2 linked regions of the Homo sapiens genome follow. Each later gene encodes a partner of the first gene's protein in a complex. Each region holds a gene or a part of one and is shown in the gene's direction. Other genes may lie near its edges.

What was found. Proteins that work in one complex are often made in the same cells at the same time.
Region 2: the proteins of TAC1 (region 1) and TACR1 are in contact, whole or in part, in a cryo-EM structure (PDB 7P02), measured with the Homo sapiens proteins. Residues at the interface, in NP_003173.1 of Homo sapiens: Lys60, Pro61, Gln62, Gln63, Phe64, Phe65, Gly66, Leu67, Met68; in NP_001049.1 of Homo sapiens: Gln24, Phe25, Asn85, Asn89, Tyr92, Ala93, Asn96, Trp98, His108, Asn109, Ile113, Gln165, Met174, Arg177, Val179, Cys180, Met181, Ile182, His197, Val200, Phe264, Phe267, Phe268, Tyr278, Leu279, Ile283, Gln284, Tyr287, Met291.

The regions. Positions count from the first base shown.
Region 1 is NC_000007.14:97,734,417-97,741,376, forward strand, and holds the end of TAC1 (protachykinin-1 isoform beta precursor), read left to right. Parts: intron 1-409; coding exon 410-433; intron 434-1,882; coding exon 1,883-1,936; intron 1,937-5,457; coding exon 5,458-5,504; 3' UTR 5,505-6,056; downstream 6,057-6,960. UniProt on the Homo sapiens protein: Tachykinins are active peptides which excite neurons, evoke behavioral responses, are potent vasodilators and secretagogues, and contract (directly or indirectly) many smooth muscles.
Region 2 is NC_000002.12:75,045,963-75,049,520, reverse strand, and holds the end of TACR1 (substance-P receptor), read left to right. Parts: coding exon 1-89; 3' UTR 90-3,058; downstream 3,059-3,558. UniProt on the Homo sapiens protein: This is a receptor for the tachykinin neuropeptide substance P. It is probably associated with G proteins that activate a phosphatidylinositol-calcium second messenger system.

The DNA.
Region 1 (6,960 bases):
CGCACTCTCTCTCGGTTTCTCTCTCTCTCTGTCACTCTCTCTGTCTCTCTCTCTCTGTCACTCTCTCTCAGTCTCTCTCTCTCTCTTTCTCTCTCTCTCTCAGTGGGTGGCCAGCCTTGAAGGTGGGATGTGTTACAGTCTTATAGTTAATAAGAGGCCTCAGAAGTCTCATAGTCCTAGGTTTGAATCCCATAGAAGGCACTTAATAAAAATTCCATTTGTTTGTTTAAATATTTAGTTTTTATGATTAATAATTTGTTTAGCATTTATGGTTCTGCTTTATTCCTCAGGATAATATATAGATAGAAAATGTTACATATTTTGAGAATCAAATTATTTTATAAAAGATATAATGTAGCATCTTTAAAAACAAATCTATATGTGTTTGCTAATTTTATCTTTCTTCTAGGACATGGCCAGATCTCTCACAAAAGTAAGTTCAAAATTATTTTGACATTTATCAAATTTAAATGTAAAATTATATTGAATTTCACTTTATTTATCTTACCTTATTTTCTGTCATGACTCTAGGGCTTAATATGTTTAATGAAGACAATATAAGAATGGGGGAGATTCATATTACATCCAGAATATGGTTGTTTAGACATATTGTACTTAGCAAAGAGATGCATTATATTAAAAAAGAAAAAAATGTCTTTTAAGTCCCTTCAATTGTTAGTTTTAGAGAAGAATTTCAATCCTAGGATTAGAAATCTACCATACATATTTCTTCCCAGCCACCCACCCCCTAAGCTTACTTTCACTGTAAACAAACAAACAAACAAACACGAAACCCCCACAAGCATTTATAGGCATCTCCTAACTCATTTTAGTATGCTTGGTCCAATAATGATGTCATTTATTAGGGTCATCCAGCAGCCAATTAAATGGAATGAGTGAGTGAACATGAGTAGAGAATCCATACTAAAAATGAAGACGGTAGAGATGCAGTTTTTTAATCCCCTAATTGAATGGGAAAACTCGATCAGTAAAACATTTCTTAGGGCAGCAAAGATGGCAAAATTGTGGTATGTGAAGGTCATTAAATTTGTTTCTCAGTTAATGGAACCGGAGTTGACAAGAAGTGGAAAGGGTCTATCTTCATCGTATTGTCCACTCACCTATTGTACCCTGTCATGGATTTGGTTCATTGGGTGGCAGAGCAGGCCACATTAACGTAGCAGCTCTATTCTCAACTATTAAAATAAAAACCAAGAGAAATTCTCTCACTAGCATTAAAATAGTAACCTTTCCAAAGAGTTCATCTTTGAAAAATAAATAGTATTCATATTTACTTTCTAAGGATTTGACTTTGAAGAGAATTATATATAAAAATTCTATGTAATAAAAAATGTACTCTGTTCATGTGAAAACTAATAAACTTTTCTGAAAGGAGTATCTTTTAATATCCAATAAAATAAAAACAGTGACCTTTTAGAAGATTATAATCATCAAGGAAAGGAATCTGGTTTAATTAAGGTCTACTTGCTGAGAAGTACAACTTATTAATAACACAAGGAATTATGCTTGGATATTTCACTCTCACACAAATGTGAAATTGACTTCCTAAAAAATCAAACCTAGCTCAAATAACAATATTTTATATAAAATATTTTAGACCCTTACATAACAGATAAAATATATGAATAGAGAGTGCTTGCTAATATTAAATATAGAATTAAGAAAAGTGGTTTCATTGTATTGTTTTAGTGTAATTTATAAAACTTTTAAGGAATCTTTATTTCTTCAGTCTCACCAAAACTTGAAGTAGATAGATATTTATTATACAGACATATATTCAGAAGCTTGCTTTGTTCTGGTTATAATAGTTTGTTTCCTCAAAGATATACATATTAAAATACCCCTAAATGTATTTTTCCAGGACATAAAACAGATTCCTTTGTTGGACTAATGGGCAAAAGAGCTTTAAATTCTGGTATGTATGAAATTATGACTGAAAATAGACAGTATCTCAAATCTATTTCTATTTTTTCTAAGACATAGTTTTAAAATATTAAAAAGGAGTGGTAGATATAAAAATGAGTATTATGGTGGAAAAATTTAATTGTTGTACTTGTAACCACAAATGGATTTATAGCTGGTTAAGCTAATACTACCACAGTATCTGTCTATTTCTCTCCAATCACCATTCTTACCAGTGTCTGCCCCATTTAATCATTACCAACCTGAATCTTTGGGTTAGTGCTATATTCTTTCCTATAGATCTGTTAAATAAGCCGTGTTTAACCTTACTGAACTAAGGGGGAGTGGGGAGTGCAGGGAAGAATGAGGGTGATTTTCACTTGTTATCAAAGTAATTTGAAAGTTTTACAAGACATTACATTTGGCGATCTTCCAATACAAAAATAAATTCACAAAACAAATTCTTTATGCAAATTAATCACTTTTTATGAAGTTGTAGAAATTCAAAATCTAAACATCCTGATGGATGTTGGAGAGGACAAAAGTGATACGGTTTATTCCAGTACTTTCAAAAAGGAACACAATTAAATATCCTTGAGTGTTATAAATTGGTTCTGGCTATAAACTCCTTAGAGAGAAAGGATGCCACAATTCTCATTTTAATTCTGAACAACTTTTTCGTATGATATAAAGGCTGCAGGTTTCCTTCTCTTCAATTTCCATCTTCTTTGTAAATACCACGTACATATATCTGAAAACCATTATTAGTTAACTCATTCATCACACTGATTTCAATGTAAATAACCCCTAGATCATTTTAATAGAAGCTCACTTTTTGTTAAGACCTTATAGCTCTTACCTCTAGGGCTTCTTGGAAAAGCTATTCAAATTCTATTTTGCCTTCAGTGAAAATAGAATTAAAATACTAAATACGTTATTAATTATAAAGTAATCAGCAGCTGTCTTACCCATTTAGAATATTTCCAGTTTCTAGACAATCTATAAGATGTGCTGGCTTAATCCTTAATTATCTGGATCCTAGGAAAAATAATTATCCTAGTGTTTTTTAATGGAGATTTTTTTCTTTATTGTGAAATGTAAGACTTGGGTACATTAAATAAAACCACTTTCTGTGGGGCAAAAATCAAAACGCGCAATAGAAAAAAAAAGTTAACACAATCTGGGCTACGGCAGAAGCCAGAGAATATATTCATATAATTGAAAAGTTCTAAGTGTTTCATAATTGACCTTTTGATACAAAATTTCCAATAAATCTGGAATTTGAAGTTCTTGGTGAAGTCCACAGGACTTCCTAGTGTTCTTATTGGGTCCCCACTTTCTATTTAGACACTACCTTTGCATCTTCTCACCAGTCATTTTGGGCTGCCGAAGTGTAAAAGTGTAAGAAATTATCAATGTGCCTTAATGAAAAACTTGTAATTGTTTTATTAATATGTATTATCTTCCCACTTTTGGAAATGAAATATAAATTTAAACCACAATGGCTTTTATTTGTACCAATACATACTAGTCCTCACTTAATTGTAGTTTTCTTGATAATCATATTAGTCATCAACTTTCCATTTCCAGAATTGATATAGGTTTCAGAACATGCTTAACTTTACAAATGTAGATATTGTACAAGTTAGAACAGATTAAATACAATTAAATGTACTTAAAATAATAACATAATTTTAAGTAGTGATAAAAATCACTGTAGTGAATCAGGATCAATTTATAACTAAATCTTTGTTCCTCCATTTTAGTTAAGGAAATATAAATAGGTGAAATGTGGAAAAAAATGTGATATGATCCACAGTCAATCAGGGATCTTTTTATGTACCTCATTGAGGCAAGGTTATCATAGCCTTAATCTATAGCCCTCTGATCTTTACCCACTCATGGTCAGGGACCCCTTTGACAATCTGATAAATCTAGATAGATGCCCTTTCCCAGAGAAACCCTCATCAGCTCATACACTCAAAAATTTATATCAGGCTTCAGAGGGTTCAAAGACCAGGTAAGAAACTCTGCTTCCATGTAAGAGGACATTATGTTCCAGCTAAATCACTGTCTGTCTTTAGTTGGTTTACATTAGCTTTCATCTAATTTCTCTGAGGAATAGAGTCATGTTACCTAAAGCTTGTCAGAGACTGAACTTGGGCCATTCATCCTGTTCCTAATATAATCAAACCAGAATGAGAAATAAACTGTTTCCTTCCCTCACGCCTGTCCAGTGTTGGCTCAGACTGTTCTGCCTCACAAGTGCATACTTAATTGATGTAAAATATGCAGCTTATTGTTAACCGCACTTAAAGGATAGCTGGGTGTTTAAGACCAGTATTAAAAGAGGGAAGTGATAATACTGGTGCCTTTACCTGTCTTCTCTGTCAGCAAATCTTCTCACTGAGGAAACTGTTTAGAGTAGCACTTATTATTCCTACAGATCCTTCACAGATCTTTCTACTCTTTCTGTTTACATTCAGTATTTTATACAGGCCATACTGAATTTCAAAAAGCATAGTAGTTCCACTATACCATACGTCTAAGTCTATAAGGTATTCGTTAAGGATGAAAAATATCCCAAAATACTTTTATTGCAACAGTCTGATTTTTACCCCTTTGTGGTTACAGATCCCTTTGAAATTATATATAATAAATATAATATAATATAATATACAATTTTGGCATTTTTTTGTCCAGATAATCAATGTATTTAAATTACTTGCTAGCTATATGTTAAATACCTTTGGAAGCAATAATTAATGCTTCACAGGCCATTAAGGTGCTAGTGAAAAGTTAAACAGTATGGTATTTAGATGGCTCAACTGACTTACCTATGGTAAATGGGCTGTTTTTAGTCTTGAGGGCAGTCCATCACTGGGAGGTATCCACAAGGTAGGAAGAGACCCCTACACAATTAGATGCCCCTTGAACAAAGATCAGCAAACTTTTCCTGAAAAGAAACAGATTATAAATATTTTAGGCTTTGTGAGCCATGTAATCTCTGTTGCAACTACCCAAATCTGTTATTTTAGGCCAAAGCAGCCATAGACAATATGTAAATGAATGAGTGTGTCTGTATTCCTATAAACCTCTTTACAAGAACAAATGGTATTCTAGATTTGGCCCATGGTCTCTGCTAGAATAAAAGTCCCACATTTGGTTTTTATCCTACTAGTATTCCTGGTTATTTTAGGCATTGTCCTTTCTAGAATTCACTATGGGTATCTGCCACTGCTTGAGAAAGCTGCTGAGAATCAACACTGCAATATATTGTGGAAATATGCTTTGGGGGCACCAAGTATATGATGAATGATGAATGAAACCGAGTTCTGTGGTTAGATCATTTCCAATCAGAATAGAGACTGAGGCAGGATTGGAAGATGTGCAGATAACATTCTTAGAAATACTTCTGTAGAGGGAAAATGTCATTATGAGTTTAAAATAAATTACTATATGCCCTGAACTTTAGTTGTGTAACTCCCTCAGTGAATTCACTTAAAAAACACTTTATCTCTTCTTTGTTTTCAGTGGCTTATGAAAGGAGTGCAATGCAGAATTATGAAAGAAGACGTTAATAAACTACCTAACATTATTTATTCAGCTTCATTTGTGTCAATGGGCAATGACAGGTAAATTAAGACATGCACTATGAGGAATAATTATTTATTTAATAACAATTGTTTGGGGTTGAAAATTCAAAAAGTGTTTATTTTTCATATTGTGCCAATATGTATTGTAAACATGTGTTTTAATTCCAATATGATGACTCCCTTAAAATAGAAATAAGTGGTTATTTCTCAACAAAGCACAGTGTTAAATGAAATTGTAAAACCTGTCAATGATACAGTCCCTAAAGAAAAAAAATCATTGCTTTGAAGCAGTTGTGTCAGCTACTGCGGAAAAGGAAGGAAACTCCTGACAGTCTTGTGCTTTTCCTATTTGTTTTCATGGTGAAAATGTACTGAGATTTTGGTATTACACTGTATTTGTATCTCTGAAGCATGTTTCATGTTTTGTGACTATATAGAGATGTTTTTAAAAGTTTCAATGTGATTCTAATGTCTTCATTTCATTGTATGATGTGTTGTGATAGCTAACATTTTAAATAAAAGAAAAAATATCTTGAAGATTTTTGTCACATGTCTTTTATTAACATTTATGTCCAATTAGCAATCTTTCCTTTAATAGGTGAAATAGGTTCAAAGCGGTTTTGTCTAAAATGCAGTTTCTCTGTCATGCACTTTTTTTGCTAAATCACTTGTCATGAGATCATTTATGAAGAACACAATTGCATTTTGCATTCCAAAGAGTAAAGGCTAAGTTCTGGTTTTATATGCTTTTAATTCCTTTTTACAAATAGGATAATAATCTATTTCAAAGATATATTTCACTGATTATTTTCTTGTTGAGTAAAACATCAGCTCACTACCATTTCAGCCCTGCTCAGAGCCCAGGTATAAATGCATCAGTGCCTGAGTCTCACTAGCATTAAGATAGCAAATCAAATTCTCACAAAGATTGTCGGAAGATGATACAGGAAGATGAGGTGTTGATAATAGGGCAACACCCTCACAGCAAAAATAAGAACTCCTTTCCAGCATTTCTAAGAAGTGCCTGTGAATTGCTAATACCTATAACACTCTCTCTGTCTGATAGAAGCACATGCGTCAGGAATAAATACCAAGCATTGAGAGGGAGGCTTGTGCATTTTGATTGATAAGTGTCCTTGGAATCATTTTCTGATTGCATAGAGCATGTGAAGTATTGACCAGTGGTGAAACAATGCAGACAAGCACTGTTCAGTGAAGTAAAAAAAATGAATTTAGCCTGGACTGGTGACTGTTGGTGAGCAATAAAACCATTTGTAGGAGAGAAGAGCTAAAGCATATTTTAACATACATATTTTCAATTAAATGTTTTTTTAAAAAACTCCAACTCATATTCCTTAGTACACAATACATCTAAATATGAAAAATTATATAATGGTAAGCAAAATGGAGAAAACCAGAGTCATCCCCTAGAGCCCCACTC
Region 2 (3,558 bases), on another chromosome or scaffold:
CCCTGGACCTGACCTCCAACTGCTCTTCACGAAGTGACTCCAAGACCATGACAGAGAGCTTCAGCTTCTCCTCCAATGTGCTCTCCTAGGCCACAGGGCCTTTGGCAGGTGCAGCCCCCACTGCCTTTGACCTGCCTCCCTTCATGCATGGAAATTCCCTTCATCTGGAACCATCAGAAACACCCTCACACTGGGACTTGCAAAAAGGGTCAGTATGGGTTAGGGAAAACATTCCATCCTTGAGTCAAAAAATCTCAATTCTTCCCTATCTTTGCCACCCTCATGCTGTGTGACTCAAACCAAATCACTGAACTTTGCTGAGCCTGTAAAATAAAAGGTCGGACCAGCTTTTCCCAAAAGCCCATTCATTCCATTCTGGAAGTGACTTTGGCTGCATGCGAGTGCTCATTTCAGGATGAATTCTGCAGCACAGCTGCGGACCCGGAAGACTCATTTTCCTGGAGCCCCGTGTTACTTCAATAAAGTTATCTCAGATTAGCCTCCTGCAGCTGGAGGCTCCTATCACCCCAGCCTACGCTTGACAGGGTGAACAAAAGAAGGCACCACATAACATCTAAATGAAAAATTTAGCCCTGTCTTCTAAGCATCTGTGAAAAGAAACATATGTATTCCCCTTTTTGGCATCTCAGTATTTCAGTACATTTATACATCATGAGATTGAGAACCTCGGGCTTCCACATTATGTCCCCGGTGACTGTCCTGAGCAGCCGACGCAAGCAGAATATGTCCACTGATACCTGCTAGTTCTCTTACAGACCAGGAATTGGGAGACTTGCACTACATTTAATGTGTAGTTGACCCTCTTTTCCTACTTGTAAACAAGGGGACTGAACTAGATAATCTAAGTGTTCCTTCGAATCTTAACATCCCGTGGTTCAAGGATTGTATGAGTTTTTTGTTTGTTTTACAAAAAAAAACAAAACGAAGAATAAAAGAATAGAAAAGAATAGGAGCAGTGAGTCTTGTAACTAATACCCAGTTCCTGGAGATGTAGCAACTGCTAAGGCCATCTGTAACTATCCATCTCAGACATTCTCCGATTTATCTTAAAATCCTGAGTACATTCCTTCTCATGGAAGGTTTTGGCTTTTGACAGAGCAGAGGACTTCATGCCAAGGCCTGCATCCATCCAGCTTTAGCAGGCAGAATTTCATAGCTGCAGAACACTGTCAGAGAAGACAAATGTGGGCTCCCTGCTTTAACCTTTTGGGTATTTTAGGGTGGGGGCCCTAACCTTCATTCTTAGTTTTACACTAGCATCGTGCTCATATGTGCGACAAGCAAGAAGGCTGCACTTTGCAGCTGCACTTCTGGGAAGAGGGCATCTTGCATCTTCCCTTCAGACTCTCTGAATGTCTCCTCCCTGCTCCATGGCTTTGCCAGCTTCCTGTCTCTAAGGGGTAGAATGACTCATCAACCCTAAAGGACAGTCAGTCTTCCAAGAGCCATGAACTGAATGCTTTATATCCTAATTTAGATTTAGAGTTTCCAGAAGGTGAGCATGCAGTTTTGTTTTGTTTTTTTTTCTGTCTCCCAAATCTGTGTTTTTTCCAGATATGGCTGGAAGCAGAAGCTTCATGTAACATCCATGAATGTCCTCCTGGTAGTTTGCATAATGGATGCACATGTGCCGCATCCATAACATTAAGGGGAGAATAATGCATGGTTTACAGCCTTTGCCAGCCCTGCTGGCTCTAATTCTACCAGGGCATCCACAGGCCTGGGGGAAGAAGAAACAGTATAAGCCAGAAAACCTCAAGAACTACATTCTCTAAAGCAGCATGGAAAGTTTTAAATAAACTAAGTGAAGCCAGATCATTGCAGATATATAAATGGAAGACAAAATTTAGAAGCAACAAAAGTTAGTGCCCTAAGCATTAGTCATACTTCCAATAGAGAATCTTGCTGTGTATGGATTACTCACTTTGGAAGAATGTAAAGAGCTAACATGATTATGAGAAGTACCTGAGAAGATGGTGTCAAGAAGTTGGGGACACCCCATCTATGGAAGAGAAGGTTAGAGTTGAGCTCAACGAGGATTAACTGAGTGCCTCCTCTGGACTTTGCCCTGAACTGGGAACACACAGCCCCTGCAGCTCTTGAAGAGCCTACCTTATTGGCCATCACTAACTAACTCACCAGTCCTAGTGAGTCTAAGCTGCCCAGCAGTCTTGGAGGCATCTGAGAGGACAGATTCTCCACAGAATTCTAAAAACCCACACTCAACATGGGCAGTCAAGCCAAAGACTGGGACCTTTGGAGAGCCTCTGGAATGAGAGTTCTCTGGGGTACTTCCAAAGGGAGCTGGCAGTCAGTCCAGGGGACCTAAAGGAATTTGGTTGAACAGTATCATCTCTGTGCATAGTAAGAGGGAATGTTGGGTGGTCCGGGCAGTTTCCAATATGGCAAAGCATCTGCTTGGACAGTGCCAGCAAGCCTTCCTCTGACCCAGTCTCCAATGTCCACTAACTTATAAAAATGTCATCAACTCCCACATGTAAGAAACACCATGATTTGTACTGTGCATGGGTCACATTCTTATTCTAGAAATGCATCACCCTGTGTTTATCCAAGTGTGTTTACTTGGTGTAATGTCCAGTAGTAATAGAATATGAAATATCAAGGAACCATCTTTGTTACGTGACTTCCAAAATGTGAGATCTCATTGCTGTCACTGTGATATTTGTATTGTGTGAATCTCTTCCTCCTCTTCCTCCTCATGCTTTCTCAGGGAGGAGCCCTGATGTATATCATGAACTCACAGTTCCTAGACCACAGTAATTGAGGGGCGGTGGGGGGGCCTTTATCGGAGAAGCTAGAGAACAAGAGTCCTTCTCCTCCTTATCCCCCAACAGGACACTAAGAGACAAGGACTGAGTGGAATCCTGGAGAAAGGGGACTCAGGAACTGACCTCATTGGCCTGATTTGTGAGGAGAGGAGTATAAGTGGAGAGGGGCCATTCCTGAGGTTTCCGTGTTTTCCAGCCTGGTCTCCTGGAAAGAATCTTTATACAGAAATAAAGTATGTGTTTCACTCTCTCGTGCCTCTGTCTCTTCTCTAGGGGTCCTAAACATCCTATAGGATGCTAAATGGGATGGTACTAGAAACCCTAATAACTTGCATAGCTAGAAGGATGGAATCAATGTTCAGTAAACTCTTAACTCTGTGATGAAATGGGTTGGGAAGATGTGGGAACAGTTCCCAGGTTGAGATCTGGGAAGGGAGGTGGGATTATGCGAAATGACAGTGATGTTGCCTATGAATAAAGCTGTGTCAGGATGCAGACACAACAGAGTTATAAGCACAAGAGTTTTCGTAGGACAGGAGGTTGGGGGGAATAACATCTGAGAAAGACAAAGGGGAAAGAAAGCAGAAGTACTCAGGGACAGCCTTCAAACCACCATGCCAATCTGACACCTGGGAAAAAAGGGGTGGTTAGGAAGAGCCTCAGACTGTGGTGCAGCTCCCAGCCCAACACGTGCAAAGATTGCCCAGAGAGACATTGCACGTTAACAGAATGGCCAGGCCTGATGCCC